Linked DNA regions of Homo sapiens: regions 2 and 3 are each linked to region 1. The links come from fine-mapping of genetic effects on gene expression. A gene starts in region 1. Each other region holds a variant in brackets. All regions are shown on one strand. Distances are from middle to middle. Region 1 holds the start of CEP295 (centrosomal protein 295). Region 2 overlaps MED17 (mediator complex subunit 17). Region 3 overlaps C11orf54 (chromosome 11 open reading frame 54).

The links. PIP is the estimated chance that this variant, and not a neighbour inherited with it, causes the effect.
Region 2: its variant is the best candidate, but not a certain one, in a credible set for the expression of CEP295 in whole blood (TOPMed, PIP 0.54).
Region 3: its variant is the best candidate, but not a certain one, in a credible set for the expression of CEP295 in lymphoblastoid cells (GTEx, PIP 0.74).

What each region holds. Positions count from the first base shown.
Region 1 is chr11:93,659,320-93,664,665 of GRCh38, forward strand. It overlaps CEP295 (centrosomal protein 295), which reads left to right and starts at 2,363. Exons shown (of 30, transcript NM_033395.2): 1 at 2,363-2,455. RefSeq lists a silencer at 2,127-2,196 and an enhancer at 2,357-2,486.
Region 2 is chr11:93,798,842-93,803,841 of GRCh38, forward strand. It overlaps MED17 (mediator complex subunit 17), which reads left to right. Exons shown (of 12, transcript NM_004268.5): 9 at 2,994-3,131. Among named protein-coding and RNA genes, the nearest start is that of MED17, 17 kb to the left of the region's middle. The variant A/G (reference allele first, on the strand shown) is at 2,875.
Region 3 is chr11:93,758,134-93,763,479 of GRCh38, forward strand. C11orf54 (chromosome 11 open reading frame 54) reads left to right here. Exons shown (of 9, transcript NM_001286069.2): 8 at 1,609-1,725; 9 at 3,382-5,346. The coding sequence ends at 3,555. Among named protein-coding and RNA genes, the nearest start is that of C11orf54, 19 kb to the left of the region's middle. The variant A/G (reference allele first, on the strand shown) is at 2,589.

The DNA of each region.
Region 1 (5,346 bases):
AGCCCACTTGGGCTTTGATTCCTCACTGCCTTCTATTAAAAACAGAACAAGTCTCGATTCAAAATCTCCAAGTGTAGAATTTCTGCCAAGGATGCAGGTTGAGGAAGTGAAGCATGTAATTTGGTCATTTATTCAGCTTTGTTCATTTATGCCAGGCAACTGAACAAAGTGCACTCCTGGTTCTCAAGAAACTTAGAGTGTAATCAATAGAGAGCCCTCTAAACAGCTCATTTCAATAAGAACTCCTAAGTGCCATGGGGCAGCATGTGCAGGAACCCATGTCCAGGCACTAAACCTAGCCCAAGGGATGAAATAATATGCACATGTTTTATCGGGTATGGAAGAGTATCTCCGTGCCTGTATGGAGGATGCTGAAAAAATGTTTAAAATGAATACAAATATTCTTCAAGATAAATGTGACAGGAAATGGGGAGAGAGGCTGAGAAGAACCCTAATATTTGGGAAGGAAACGTGAATTCTAGTCCTGGTTCACCCTTGACTGAAATGTGCCCTTGGCCAAGTTGCTGAATCTCTCTGTAACTCAGTATCCTGATCTGTAAATCTGAGGTGGAATCACACTATTTCTTCCTGTACCTTCCTTCCTCCTACTCCATCCCTTTAAGTTTTGGTGTTCCTCGGAGTTTGGTTCTTTGCTCATTGCTCTTCTCACTCTGCAAATTCTCCCTAAGTGATCTCATCCATTCCGCTAGCGTTTGTTATTACTCATGTAACAAGGAAATCCCTTTATGCTTAGCCTAGTTCTTTCTGTGGGCTATCTACCGATGTATTCATCTGCTTACAGTACATCACTGGATGTTCTACAGGCACATGAAGTTCAATATACACAGAGCTTGGCTCATCACCCTACCCACTTAACTGCCATTTCTGATTTCTCCCTTTACAATCAAGAATCAACACTGCTACCCAAGCTAGTGGCCTATGAAATCAACTTCACTTTCCCTTTTCTCTCAATCTCACATGCAATTGTTTGTCAAGTACTGCTAATTTTGTGTCCTAAGTTTCTGAAATGCATCCCTTTGTCTAGATATCTCATAAACAGCTCAAATTCAAAATATTCAAAGCTTAACTTATTACTTCTCCCTCCTGGTTCTCTTCATGTGTGTTCCAGGAGGATGTTATCACTATCTACCCAGGTGCTAGGTATCTGGGACTTGGGCATCACCCTTGTTTTCTCCTCTTGTGCCTCCCATAACCAGGTAACCACCAATTCCTGATGTTTGGCTTCCTATTCAATCTACTCACCTCTCTCCATTCTCATTGCTATTATCTTTCACTTTCTGTAGTAGTATACGGCCTTCTGTCTTCACTCTCTCTGACCTTTTCCCCACTGTGCAGCCAGATCTGATCGTGTCAGCAACTTCCCATCCCCACCCCCCATTTTTAATCCTTTGATTCCTGATGTTTAACCCCCATGACCCAGACTGCAAAATCTAGTATAGGCATCATAATCCATCCAGAGTAACATAATGTACTCGGCACATAACAGATACTCAATAGGTATTAACCTGTGCTCACCGCCTGATTATTGGTTATTTACAGCAGATAAATCCGTGAGGTGCTCTCCGTGCGCTGTACCTCTGGAGGCACAGGGTAACATACGGCTCATTGTTGTTATGAGCTGGAGGCCTTAAATGAAAGCTATAAGACGTTAACTGCGCATAATAGTACCAATGAATTCCGTAGTCAGTACAGAAAAGGATGCATATCCCAAGATATCTTCATGATGGGGCCTTAAAACAAAAGTCACCCTCATGGCTCTGCACTTTTTTTTTTTTTTTTTAGACAGGCTTTGGCTCTGTCGCCCAGGCTGGAGTGCAGTACTGGCGGGATCTCGGCTCACTGCAACCTCCACCTCCTGGGTTCAAGCGATTCTCCTGCCTCAGCCTCCCGAGTAGCTGGGATTACAGGCGCCCACCACCACGCACGGCTAATTTTTGCTGTTGTCGTATTTTTTGTAAAGATGAGGTTTCACCATGTTTTTAAAAGGACTTGGTCTTGAACTCATAACCAAAAATACATAACCTCGAACTCTTGGGCTCAAGTGATCCTCCCGCCTTGGCCTCCCAAAGTGCTGGGATTACAGGCGCGAGCCACCGAGCGCGGCCCATACGGGAAAACGTCAAAGCCTGACAGGTGTGACAAATAATGGGCCCCTAGGCAGGCTGGGGCTGGCGCGTGCCTGTGCGCGTGCGCGGGGCGCGGGGTTTTTAACACCGCGCAGCCTTCCCGGCGGCCCCCGAGGAAGGCGGGACAGGGCCTATTCCCGCGGTTTGGTCCGGCCATTGGCGGGCGGTTTGAATGACGGAAGTGACGGCGGCTCGGCGATGGCTCTCCCGCAGGCGCAGAAACGGCTGCTGGGCAGCTGATGGGCAGGAGCTTACCAGGCTGGCTTGCTCTGAGCTGCGGTTACTGTGTCCAGGCCCCGGGTTCTCAGGTGAGTCAGGGATGCACTGGCTTCCCAGTCGCCCCGTAGGAGCATGACTCCCCGAGGCCCAAGAGCTGGGATTGTATTCCGGAGGAATGGGATCCCAGGAAGGCGCCTTGTTGCGAACGCAGGTACGGCTCGCGTTTCTCAGGCTCCGCAGGCCGTGGGCCCTGCCCGCGGTCGGGCTGGCGGCTGTAAGGAGTGTCCGGACCAGACCCGGTAACTCAGTGCGAGAGGCTTTGCGCGCTCTCCTGGGGTCGGGTCGCGCGAGCTTCCCACGCAGCCTCCCCTGTCGCGGAGCTTCCGTGTCGGGGGAGGGGCGCTTCCCCCAGATCACCCGCGGACATGGCCTGCCACCTGGTAGCTGTTAAAAGAGCCTTGCCTGGATCGTTTCATGCAAAGAGCACGCTCTCTTTTGGTGTCTGCCACCTTAATCTCACAGTTATTCAATCCTGTCACAAACTCAACTTTTAAAACAATGGTGAACTTTTGAGTCCTTAATACTTAGAGTGTATTTGAAGACTTCACGCTAAGTCACATAGACGTCAGAACAAACCTTTTGGGGTAGATATTATTATTCCCTTTATACAGTTTAAGAAAACGAAACCAAAGTGACTTCAGTGACTTGGCCAGTATCTTCCTGCTAATAAGTGGCAGTGTTGGGTCTTGAACCCAGATCTTCCAAGTTTAGTGTTAATTTTGTGATTACTATGTACCAGGAGCCATTTAATCCTCAGGACGAAATCTTGCAAGATAAGTAGTATAATCTTCAATATTGGATAGTAATAAAATGTAGAATTTAAAAATCCATATTACTAAGAATAAATAATTAATAAACAAGTAAATGGGGCAGCAGGGAAAACTTCCTTACAGCAGGATTCCGATTGATAATTGTAGAAGGAATAATGGAAATAGAAAATACTATTTGGTAAACACCACAGTAGTTGTTTCAGACAACAGTCATCAATGGATACTAACGTCAATGGGCAAAAGTATGATGAAAAGCATATTTCTGTAGCCTCTACTCTGTCTTCATGAGATATTTATAAAGGAAAAGTAGTAACTACAGAGGAGAAACCTGGTGGACATCATCTTAACCAAGTGACCAAAATTCAGCATCATTTACCTCTTGATAACAATGCACTGAAAAGGTGCCTAATCAATTCTGTGGTGTTCTTGCCAAAAATACATAACCTCAGTTTAATCACATAAGATTAGACAAATCTAAATGGAGGGACATTCAACAAAGTACTTGGCCAGTATTTTCAAAAATGACAGGGTCTTGAAAAGACAGACTGAGAAACTGTCCCAGATTAAGGGGGACATGACAACTTTGACATGAGAATGTAACTCACATATCTTAATCTCCTGCATTCTGAAATCTCCATTTGCACTGAGGCCATGCTTCCCATGGGCTGCTCCTAGCCACTGACAGTGGCAGGCCTGTTCCTGAGAATCTCCCCACGGGTTCTTGCTGAACATTTCTTATACTGCATGGCTGTCTAAGAGGGGTCTACCCATTGTTACTTCCCTCCATTCAGTGTTAGACTTACACTGAAGTCTGAGGCGCTTGTAACTTTTATCAGCTCCCTCCCATTTTCCCTCACACACGCATTTCTCCTAATAAAATATTTGCAGGTTTACTCCCATCTTAGCGTCTGCTTTTTAGATGACACACAGTTACACAGCAACAAATGCAATGTGTTATATCCTTGGATTGGCTTCTGGTCCAGAAAATAGACATTAGTGTGATAATTGACAAAAATTGAATACTGCCTGTAGATTAGTAAAAAATATTGTGTCAGTGTTAATATTCAGATTTTGATCATTGTACCATGGTTATGTACAAGACGTTGACATTTGGAGAAGCTGGGGAAAGGGCAAATGGGAATTCTAAGCCTGAAATTTCCAAATAAAAAGTTTAAAAAATTTAAAAATTATACACAAGAAGAAACAGTTATTCTATCGCATTTTAGGAGCTTAAAAATAATAAATGTTTATATGTTTTTCAATAATCCTCTGAGATGAAGTAATGGATACCTAAAATTTGAAATATTAGGATTTTTTTCCTCTTAAAGTATAAGAATAAAACACAAATCTAGGTATACCATTTGAGGAATTTTTACATATGTATACACTTGTCTAAACCATCATACAGATCAAAATATATAAATTTTCAGTACCCCAGCAAGCTTCTTTGTGCCATCTCCGAGTCAGTAACTTCCAGTAAGGTAACTTTATTTTTACCTCTCATGGATTAGTTCTGCTTGTTCTTGAACTTTATATAAATCAATTTTGTTGTACTTTTTTGTGTCTGGCTTTTTAAAAATTCAGCAATATTATGTCTATGAGATTCATCAGGAATTAGTCTTAATTATTTAAATATGAGGGAATTTCTTAGACCTTCAGACAAAATAATAAAGATACATTGTGAAGATTAATCTTGTTCTTTTTTCTTCTTTGTTAAATTTTCTGTTTTTTAAATTCTCACTCTCAAAAAACAACAGCTTAAATAAAATTTTCGCCACTCCACATATTTTTGTGTGTTGGAAAGTTAGGAGCCATTTGGAATAAGGAAACCAGATTCTTCCCTTGGCTCCGCCACTAGATGTTGTCACTCAGGGAAAGTCCTTTAACCCAAGAGGCCTTGTTTCTTCATGTATAGCATGAAAAATATAATCAGTACTTTAGTTACCATTACCAAAGCCGTGTGAATATTAGATGAGTAGGATGCATTAAAAGATTTTTTTAATGCCAGCAGTTAGTCCTTTTTGGTGTTAGAGTCTTATTGAAGGTTGTGATGATTGTGTATAGCTCTGTAGCACTTCACATAAATTAACTCATTGAGTCATTCATTCAGTCAACACACTTACTGAAGTAACTACCTATGGGCGAGACAC
Region 2 (5,000 bases), 140 kb after region 1:
AAAGCTGATAATTTGAGTAGATCGTTAGTCTTGCAAATTTCTGATTGACCATAAATTTAAATATTCCCCAAATAAATGATCAGCATAAAAACAGCTATTTTTATAACCATTATAAATTTCAGAGTAGTAAGTGTAGCCTTGGAAGCAGCAAAGCTTTAAAACTTTTACTTCTTCCTGGTGTACAAAAAGCTTAGTGAAGAAAAAAAGACCCTGTCTGGGCATGGTGGCTCACCCCTGTAGTCCCTACACTTTAGGAGGCCAAGATGGGAAGCTTGCTTGAGCCCAGGAGTTTGAGACCAGCCTGGGCAACATAGTGAGACCTTGTCTCTACAAGAAATTTTTTTTTTTTTTTTTTTTTGAGACGAAGTCTCACTGTGTCACCCAGGCTGGAGTGCAGTGGTGCAGCTCACTGCAAGCTCTGCCTCTCGGGTTCAAGCGATCATCCCGCCTCAGCCTCCCAAGTATTTGGGATTACAAGTGTGCGCCACCATGCCTGGCTCATTTTTGTATTTTTAGTAGAGTTGGGGTTTCACCATGTTGGCCAGGCTGGTCCCGAACTCCTGACCTCAAGTGATCCACCCACCTTGGCCTCCCAAAGTGCTGGGATTACAGGCGTGGGCCACCGTGCCTGGCCAGGAAGCCTTTTTAAAAAAAGTAGCTGGGCTTGGTGTGGTGGCTCATGCCTGTAAACTCAGCACTCAGGGAGGCTGGGCAGATCCCTCAAGTCCAGGAGTTTGAGACCTGCCTGGGCAACATGGCCCATCTCTACAAAAAAATAAAAAAAATTAGCCAGATGTGGTGGTGTGCACCTGTAGTCCCAGCTACTTGGGAGGCTGAGGCTGGAGGATTGCATGAGCCTGGGATGTTGAGGCTGCAGTGAGCTGTGATCACACCCCGCTACACTCCAGTTGGGATGACAGAGTGAAACCATGTCTTAAAAAAGACAAAAAGACTGATGTGTATGATAACATGCACAGTGAGATCTCTTGACATGCTAATATATTTTTATGTGTATGTGTCAGAGTGTGTGTGTGTGTCTTTAAAGAAAAATCGGAGTTTATAAAATTTTATATCCTTCTGAGTTCATACCTCAGGGGTGACACCAAAACAAACAAATTTTTTACCTTGCATTCATTTAATATTGTATTGTAAATTTTTTCATCTATTTTAATAGCTGTATAATATCCTATAATGTAAATACTTCATGATTTCTTTTCCCAATTTTCCATTGCTAGATAATTTTATTTCCAGTTTAATGGTTCTCGTAATGCTCACACACATACTTACCTTCTATAGGAATTATGAAGCACTGTCAGGGAAACACATCAAGGAAAAAGGAAAATAAATTTCAGAATGTATTGTAAGAAGCCGGTACTGCAGCAGCAGACCAAACCCTAAGTCTATTAATGTAAAAGCCCCTTGTCCCCACTGGCTCTTCTCATTTCTTCCCATTGTCTTTTAAAATTAAATTTATTTTTATTATTATTTTTTTAATTTTGAGGTGAGGCGTGGCATGGTGGCTCATGCCTGTAATCCTAGCACTTTGAGAGGCCAAGGAGGGCAGATCACTTGAGGTCAGGAGTTCTACACCAGCCTGGCCAACATGGCGAAACCTCGTTTCTACTAAAAATAGAAAAATTAGCCAGGCGTGGTGGCACACGCCTGTAGTCCCAGCTACTCGGGAGGCTGAGGCAGGAGAATCACTTGAACCTGGAAGGTGGAGGTTGCAGTGAGCTGAGATTGCACCACTGCACTCCATCCTGGGTGATAGAGTGAGACTTTGTCTCAAAAAAAAAAAAAAAAAAAATTTGAGACAGCATCTTACTCTGGCTTAGACTGGAGTGCAGTGCAGTGGTGGAGTCATAGCTCACTGTAACCTGGAACTGCTGGGTTCAAGTGATCTTCCTGCCTTAGTCTTTTGAGTAGCAGGGACTACTCGTGCACGCCACTGTGCCCAGCTTATTTTTTTTTTATTTATAGAGACTGGTTGTCGATATGTTGCTCAGGTTTGTTTTGAACTCCTGGTATCAAGCGATCGTCCCTCCTTGTCCTCCCAAAGTGTTTTGATTACAGGTGTGAGCCACTTCCAGGCCTTTCTTTCTCTTTCCAGTAAAGTGCTAAAAATCAGATAATTAGAAACTGAGGGTTTGGTTAATTTAAATGATTTATGCTTTGGTTCTAAGTGTTGGCTGTTGATTAGTGTGTATAAGATTACTGGCTTTGGAATTGGATTCCCAGGTTTTTGGCTCTGGATTTAGACTCCCAGGTTTTGTATCCCAGTTTATAGCTATGTGACCTTGGGCAAATTGCTTAACATTGCTAAAGTTTTTTCTGTTTAAAAAATGGAAATAATAGTGCCTACCTAATAAGGTTAAGATTAAATGATATGTTAGTAAGATTAAATGATATAATTCATGAAAGCTCTTGTTATAATGCATGCTGTATAATGAACACTTGATAAATCTTATTTCTCATTGGTATTGATAGTTTTCTTTTTTTGGAGTATAAGGATTTGATTGTGCAAAAAATCTCTAGCTTCTCTTGAATATGATTATAATTTCATTACAGTAATGGGTCTAGATGTGGGTGTGTCCCAAGTCATTTGTTACCAGGGATCAAGTACTGACATTTATGAATGATTTATATTAGGTTTATACCGTAGAATATCGAATATCCTTCTCACTCATTTCCTGATAAGCTTTTCTGAGTGGAAGAAAATGAATAGAGTTAAAGGGAATAAACCCATCATGAATCATGATAATCAGGGGTGTGTGATGAGAGTGTATTGTAATGTCAAGCTGAGAACCTACACATTCAAGCAGTATGAAAGGGTTCTTAGAGCTACCTCTGCCTTTATTTAAAGTCTGCCTACAC[A/G]TAGTGGTAGTTTAAAAAAGTAGTTAGTTTTAAAATTTTCATAAAATTTTCGAATCATTTATATTCCTATCATTTTGTATGGTGACTTAAAAAGTTTTTTAACTTCTTGTATTTAAAAGAGCTGCTGCAACCATTGACAGCTTAGCAAGCCGAATTGAGGATCCTCAGATACAGGCTCATTGGTCAAATATCAATGATGTTTATGAATCTAGTGTGAAAGTTTTAATCACATCACAAGGCTATGAACAAATATGCAAGTAAGTGGCCAAAATAAAAGTTTTGTATTTAATATGTTAATTTGCTATTGATGTTTGCTGAGTAATTATATTAAGCATTTGGTTTTTATTTGCTAGGGTGGCATAATATTTCTGTAAATTATATAAGCTGTAGAGTGTTTTTTTTTTTAATAGGTGGAGTCTCACTCTTTTACCCAGGTTGGAGTGCAGTGATGATCATATCTGACTACAGCCTTGAGCTCCGGGGTTCAAGGAATTCTTTTGCCTCAACCTCCTGAGTAGCTGGGACTATAGGCATGTGCCCCCATGCCCAGCTAATTAAAAAAATTTTTTTTAAGAAACATGTCTATGTTGCCCATGCTGGTCTTGAACTCCTGGACTCCAGCAATCCTGCTGTCTTGGCCTCCCAAAGTGCTGGGATTACAGGCATGAGCCACCACTCCCGGCCCTTGTTTTTTTGTTTTTTTGATGGCAATTAGTTCTTAGGAGAAAATTCATAAAGTCTGTTTTTAAACATTGTAAGAATGAGAGGTAACAATGTCTAAAAACTAGTCTTTATTAAGTAAATGTCACATATTTGAGCTGGGGTAAACAATGAACCCCGGCACTGAGCAGAAGGCTGCCTTACCTTTTGAGATTCCAGGTCTGCTTCAGTTCTTGCCTAATGGTTATGGCAGGTCTAGTATATTTGAAGTGAATAGGGCCATTTGTATTCTAGCCTATACTCTCCATGTTATGCCTAAAATAACCCAAGTTTTATAGTTCTCATGACCTGGTGTTGATCCTGGGTCTAATCAAGTTCATGATTATGCCCTAAAAACTGGGTTGATAACTGTGTGTCTGTGAAGGAGGTAAGATGGTTTTTGTCCCCAGGCTTCATAGGAATGCAGTCTACTTGATTTACATTCACAAATCACAAGTTAATGCAATTGGCCAGTAGCCTTTAAGGACTTTTTGGCCTACCTTTTGAGCCTTTTTGAAATTTAACACCTGACATTTGTCAGGGTCTGTGACTACATTTTATTTTTAAAGTGTTAGTTGCTTTATTTCCTTTTTGTCTCAGTTTGTGTTTTTGAGATGGCGTCTCACAATGCTGTTGTCCAGGCTGATCTCAAACTCTTGGGCTCAAGCAGTCCTCCTGCTTCACCCTCCTGTGTAGCTGGGACTACAGGTGTGCACTACGATACCCTTAGTTGCTTTATTTCAGCAGACGTAACTAGCCACAGTAAAGCAAAGCATACTGTGAAACACAAAATAACGACCCTTAGGAGTAGGGGCAGAAAAATACATTTATAATGCTATTGTTTTCTTTCTTTTTGATTTTTCCTATGTACAGTCATTTCCAATATAATACTATTTTTAATGCAGAGGTTTTAATTCACTTAAAAAATGAAAACATAGTAGATAAGTGTGAGAGCAGATGCAGAGTATGAAAGAATACACAATGGACAGGAAACTAGTCCTGAAACTTCCAGAGAAAGATGATGGAATAAAGTAGAGTCATAGAGTTTTCTTCCCCTTATCTAAAGAAAGAATAAAATAATTGGGGTGATTTGAGGGTGGATTGGGAGAAAGTAGGTGTTAAACATAGATGAAACAAGTTTGGATTGCATTTTTAACTTAAGAATGGGTGATGGGATTATAGGCTTTCATTATATTATACTTCTGTTGGTGTTTATTATTTATTTGCCAGTAAGCCTTTTGCCCTCCTACTGTTTGTGTTTAAAATTTTCCATAGTAAAAAGAGAGACTGAGTGCAATGGAAAAGAAAAGAGAAAATTATCATCATTGAATTGTTTAGACTTAGAACTAAGACTAAAACTGGGATTATGGTTACAGGTCCCAATCTAAACGTTGTAAACTTCCACAAAGAAAGATTAGTGATGATGT
Region 3 (5,346 bases), 99 kb after region 1:
GATGGCAGCGGCAGGCTCTCTGGAGCGGCTGCAGCAGGGAGGCACGGCTGAGGCTACACACTCTATGGAGCGGGTGGGAGCTGAAGACAGGTGGGAGTCCTGCCCCTTCCGAGTTGGCGCTGGAGCTCCGTTGGTGCCGCTGCAATCGCCCAAGCCATGGCTGTAGTCCCTGGCATCCCTGTGCTCTCCCAGTGGGAACAGGCGAGAGCCCCAACTGCCCAGGCGCAGCTGCAGCAGCTCAAACCCGCGGCTGCAGACCTGGGTCTCCCGCTCCACGGAGCAGGCAGGAGCCCTGCCTTCTCCACACAGCTGCAGCTGCCCAAACCGTGGCTGCGGACCCAGGCATTCCTGCATTCTTGGGGGTCTGGGAAGGCCCCCACTGCTCTTACAGGCTTGGAAATGCCTGCTCCCACTGCCTGGCTTCTCCCTGCTGTCGGCGCCTGCTCCGATCCAGGAGCAAAGTCAGGCAGAGCCCGGTCGCTGTCGCAGCCCAGCCAGGTGTGCACACGCTCAGGGCACTGCTGACACACCAGCCCCCTGCCGTCCCGGCCCCTTCTGGATTTGGGGCGCTGACACGAGCGTAGAAGGGAAGCTGAGCGGCGGCTGAGAGCAGCTCCCCACTGGCCTTCAGGCACCCCTTGGCACCTACAGCCTGGATTCCGTGATCGGCAGCAGGAGGCAGACAGGTTCCGGGGCAGAAGGGGGCGGGTTTCCGGTGAGGCCCCACTTTCGGGCCAGGGAAGGCCTGAAGGCTGGGGGCCCAGCTGCCAATCCCACACACCAGAGTGGAAACTTGTGGTGCTTTTTCCAGGCCCACTGTGATCATCCCACTGCACTCCAGCCTGGGTGACAGAGCCAGACCCTGTCAGGAAACAACAGATGCTGGAGAGGTTGTGGAAAAATAGGAATGCTTTTACACTGTTGGTGGGAGTGTAAATTAGTTCAACCATTGTGGAAGTCAGTGTGGTGATTCCTCAAGGATCTAGAACTGGAAATACCATTTGACCCGGCAATCCCATTACTGGGCATATACCCAAAGGATTATAAATCATTCTGTGATAAAGATACACGCACACATATGTTTATTGCAGCACTATTCACAATAGCAAAGACTTGGAACCAACTCAAATGACTGGATTAAGAAAATGTGGTACATATACACCATGGAATACTATGCAGCCATAAAAAAGGATGAATTTATGTCCTTTTCAGGGACATGGATGAAGCTGGAAACCATCATTCTCAGCAAACTATCACAAGATCAGAAAACCAAACACCCCATGTTCTCACTCATAAGTGGGTTGTTGAACAATGGGAACACATGGACACAGGGAGGGGAACATCACACACCGGGGCCTTTCGGGGAGTGGGGGACTAGGGGAGGGATAGCATTAGGAGAAATACCTAATGTAGGTGACAGGTTGATGGGTGCAGCAAACCACCAGGGTACGTGTATACCTATATAACAAAACTGCATGTTCTACACATGTAACCCAGAACTTCAAGTATAATTAAACAATAATAATAAATAAGTAAAATATATTTTTAAAATTTTTAATTCTTAGTAATATTCAGTATGTTTACCTATGTAATTATCTTTTGTTGTAGCCTGCAGAATTTTCTTCCTGCCCCTTGAACTCTGATGAAGAAGTGAATAAATGGTTGCATTTTTATGAAATGAAAGCTCCTTTGGTTTGTCTACCAGTTTTTGTCTCCAGAGACCCAGTAAGTCTGTGTCTGTTTTTTATATTATACTACAATGATAATGCTTGATTTTTAGGATAATCTTTAAGAACTAGGCACTTTTGTGTTTGTTGTTGTTGTTGTTTTGAGACAGAGTTTCACTCTTGTTGCCCAGGCTAGAGTGCAATGGCAGGATCTCAGCTTACTGCAACCTCCGCCTCCTGGGTTCAAGCGATTCTCCTGCCTCAGCCTCCCGGGTAGCTGGGATTATAGGCATCTGCCACCATGCCTGGCTAATTTTTGTATATTTAGTAGACGGGGTTTCACCACGTTGGTCAGGCTGGTCTCAAACCACTGACCTCAGGTGATCCACCCACCTCTGCCTCCCAAAGTGTTGGGATTACAAGCATGAGCCACCATGCCCGGCCATGTGTTGTTGTTATTTAAGAATGAGGGTAGCCTCTAGAATTATTTTGGAAGATAAGGGAGCTCTTCACCATCCTATGAGTTAGGCAGAGCAGATTTTACCTTTGAGAAAATGAAGGCACAAGCATTTTAAATAACACCCAAAATTATTTTATTAAATAGCAGGTGTAGTTGGGCATGGTCACATGCCCCAGTATTCTTAGCTACTGAGGAGGCTGACTTGAACCCAGAAGTTTGAGACCAGCCTGGGTAACAGTATAATCCCCATCTCAAAAAAAACAATTAGTAGAGTCACAACTAGGATTCAGGTCTCCTGTCATCTTGTTTGGTGTTCATTATATTATAATACTATACGCTAGAAAAAATATTACAGACCAATTCAAAGCAAATACCTACTAAAATATTGGTCATATCTTCTCTTTTTTTTATTTTTTGTGACAGAGTCTCGCTCTGTTGCCCAGGCTGGAGTGCAGTGATGC[A/G]ATCTCGGCTCACTGCAACCTCCGCCTCTTGGGTTCATGTGGTTCTCCTGCCTCACCCTCCTGAGTAGCTGGGATTACCGGTACTCACCACCACACCCGGCTAATTTTTGTATTTTCAGTAGAGACAGGGTTTCGCCATGTTGACCAGGCTGGTCTCGAGCTCCTGACCTCAAGTGATCCGCCCGCCTCAGCCTCCCAAAGTGGTGGGATTACAGGCATGAGCTACTCCGCCTACCCTGGTCATATCTTGATCCAGTGATTACATGCCTAGGATATTATACTTAAATATATGCATAATTGTGTAAAATTACTAGTTAAAAGGTTATTATTACAGTATTGTTGTAGTAGCAAAAGAATTAGAAATAATGCAAGTGTCAGTTGAGAAGTTACATACGCAATAGAATACCATGCAGGTATAAAAGAATGAGGAAGCTCTTTTATGATTTCATATACAAAGATCTCAAAACTATATTGTTACATGAAAAAAAGTTACATGCAGAAAAGTGTGTACAAAATACTACATTTGAGTAAAAATAAAAGTAAGTATTTATGGAAGGATATACAAGAAAATGCTTACACTGGTTACCTGCTAGGAAGGGGAGTGAGTGGTGAGGGCAAGAGAGAAGAAGATACATTTTACTGAATACATCGTTTTGCCCCCTTTGAATTTAGAACATGTGAATGTATTACCTATTTAAAAAATAAAAACTATTGCAACGTAAAAAGTTATCCCTCCCCCTTAAACTCTAATCAATAATTTGAGTACTAACATATTGTTTGTCTGTTATCTTAGGGGTTTGATTTGCGACTGGAGCACACTCATTTTTTTAGTCGTCATGGAGAAGGTGGACACTACCATTATGACACTACTCCAGATATAGTGGAATATCTTGGATACTTCTTACCTGCAGAGTTTCTCTATCGCATTGATCAACCAAAAGAGACGCATTCAATTGGGCGAGATTAAATCAGCTGATACTTATTTAGAAAAAGAAATAATTAAGGTTAATTAATTGATTGACTTATTAATTAATACTGATATAAAACCAATAGAAATGATCCCACAGGCCAGGCACAATGGCTCATGCCTATAATCCCAGCACTTTGGGAGGCTGAGGCAGGAAGCACACTGGAGCCCAGGAGTTTGAGACCAGCTTGGGCAACATAGCAAGACCCTGTCTATTTTTTTAAAAAAGTAAAAAATAGAAATTATCTCACTACTTAAATCCCATTTTTTTCACTTCATATGAAAGAACATATTGATAGTATATTCTATATTATTTCATAGATCTGTCTGAAAGAGATTGGGAACAAAAATATCTAATTGAGATATTCTTTAATTTTTTACATAGCAGCTTTATTTTTTTTATTCTGTAGTATCAGCGAAATCAGTCATGTTTATACCTTGAATATAAATATCAGGAATCATGCAATTATTTCTACTATGTATTTAGTAGTATCTTATATTTGTATAACATTATTACATTTTGCAAATTAGTATCACAACTGCTAAGTAGATGTTTCTGAGTATTAGAAAAATCAGTGTTATTACCTGCAGGATATTAAAAAACATTTGAAAAAGAGAAAAAGAAAAATCAGTGTTTAGAAATGTTGATAGTTATTGAATCTTTGAATTGAATTTTAAAAATCCATTCTAGTAATCAGAGTATACTTTTTTTATAGAACAAGGTGGCAGGTGGGGAGCCCTTTACCCTTCTGGTGAAGTTAAACCATAGAAGTTTACAATTTGCCTTTCACAAACATTAGCAGTCCGGGCATGGTGGCTGAAGCCTGTGATCCCAGCATGTTGGGAGGCCGAGTGGGAGGATTGCCTGAGCCTAGGAGTTTAAACCAGCCTGGGCACCATGGTGAGACCCCATCTCTATTATTTAAAATGTTTCTTAAATAAAAAAAACACAAACATTAGCAACTAGTTGGCTAGCCATAATTCCTCCCTTGTTTCGATTGCCAGTTAGAAGCAATTTTTATTTCACTGGTTATTTGCAAGAGAAGGGGTAAAAAAACAGCATCAGAGTGCAACACTGAAGTGAGCTTACTTTAATTTGTAAGTGAAGCTGTTGCTGAACATGACCACTATCGTTGCTGAAATATAAAATTATACTCACTGATTGTAATGGTTGAAATTTTCCTGAATAATCATTAGCCAAAGATCAACTCTCTAATGGTGCTAATGGCAATCTAGCTAATGTGCAAATTTAGGAAGTCTTCAGTACTAAGTACATAATTTTCAAATAATATTTTTTAATTGTCTACTTTGGATGTTAGCTATGTCTTGTGAGTATAAATTCCAATTTTAAGCACTATTTTGATGCAAAAAAATGAATAAAAAATTTAATTTATGATATGTTTGTAATATCTTACCTCCAGACAAAATAATATTAATAGTCTATCATTTAACAAATATGTATTGAACACCTACCCTTCTCTCTGGAGTGTACACTTCATGTGGGCAAGGGCCTTGTTCACGACTGTAGCACTAGTGCCTTTAACTGCTAGCAAAGTAGCCACTCGGATGATTATACCAAACACTTTACTAAAGCTGGGGATCTGTCTAGTGGGGAAGACAAACAATAAATATATAATATGTCAGGTGGTATTAAATGCTATGAAAAGAAAGGAGTAGATGGACTGTAAAGGAGGATGCTATTTTTTTGTGGCCATCCCGCACTGAGACAGGATGCATTCCACACTCAAAATTTGGTTCACATGTCCAGACTGATAGCCAAGTTCAGTGGCT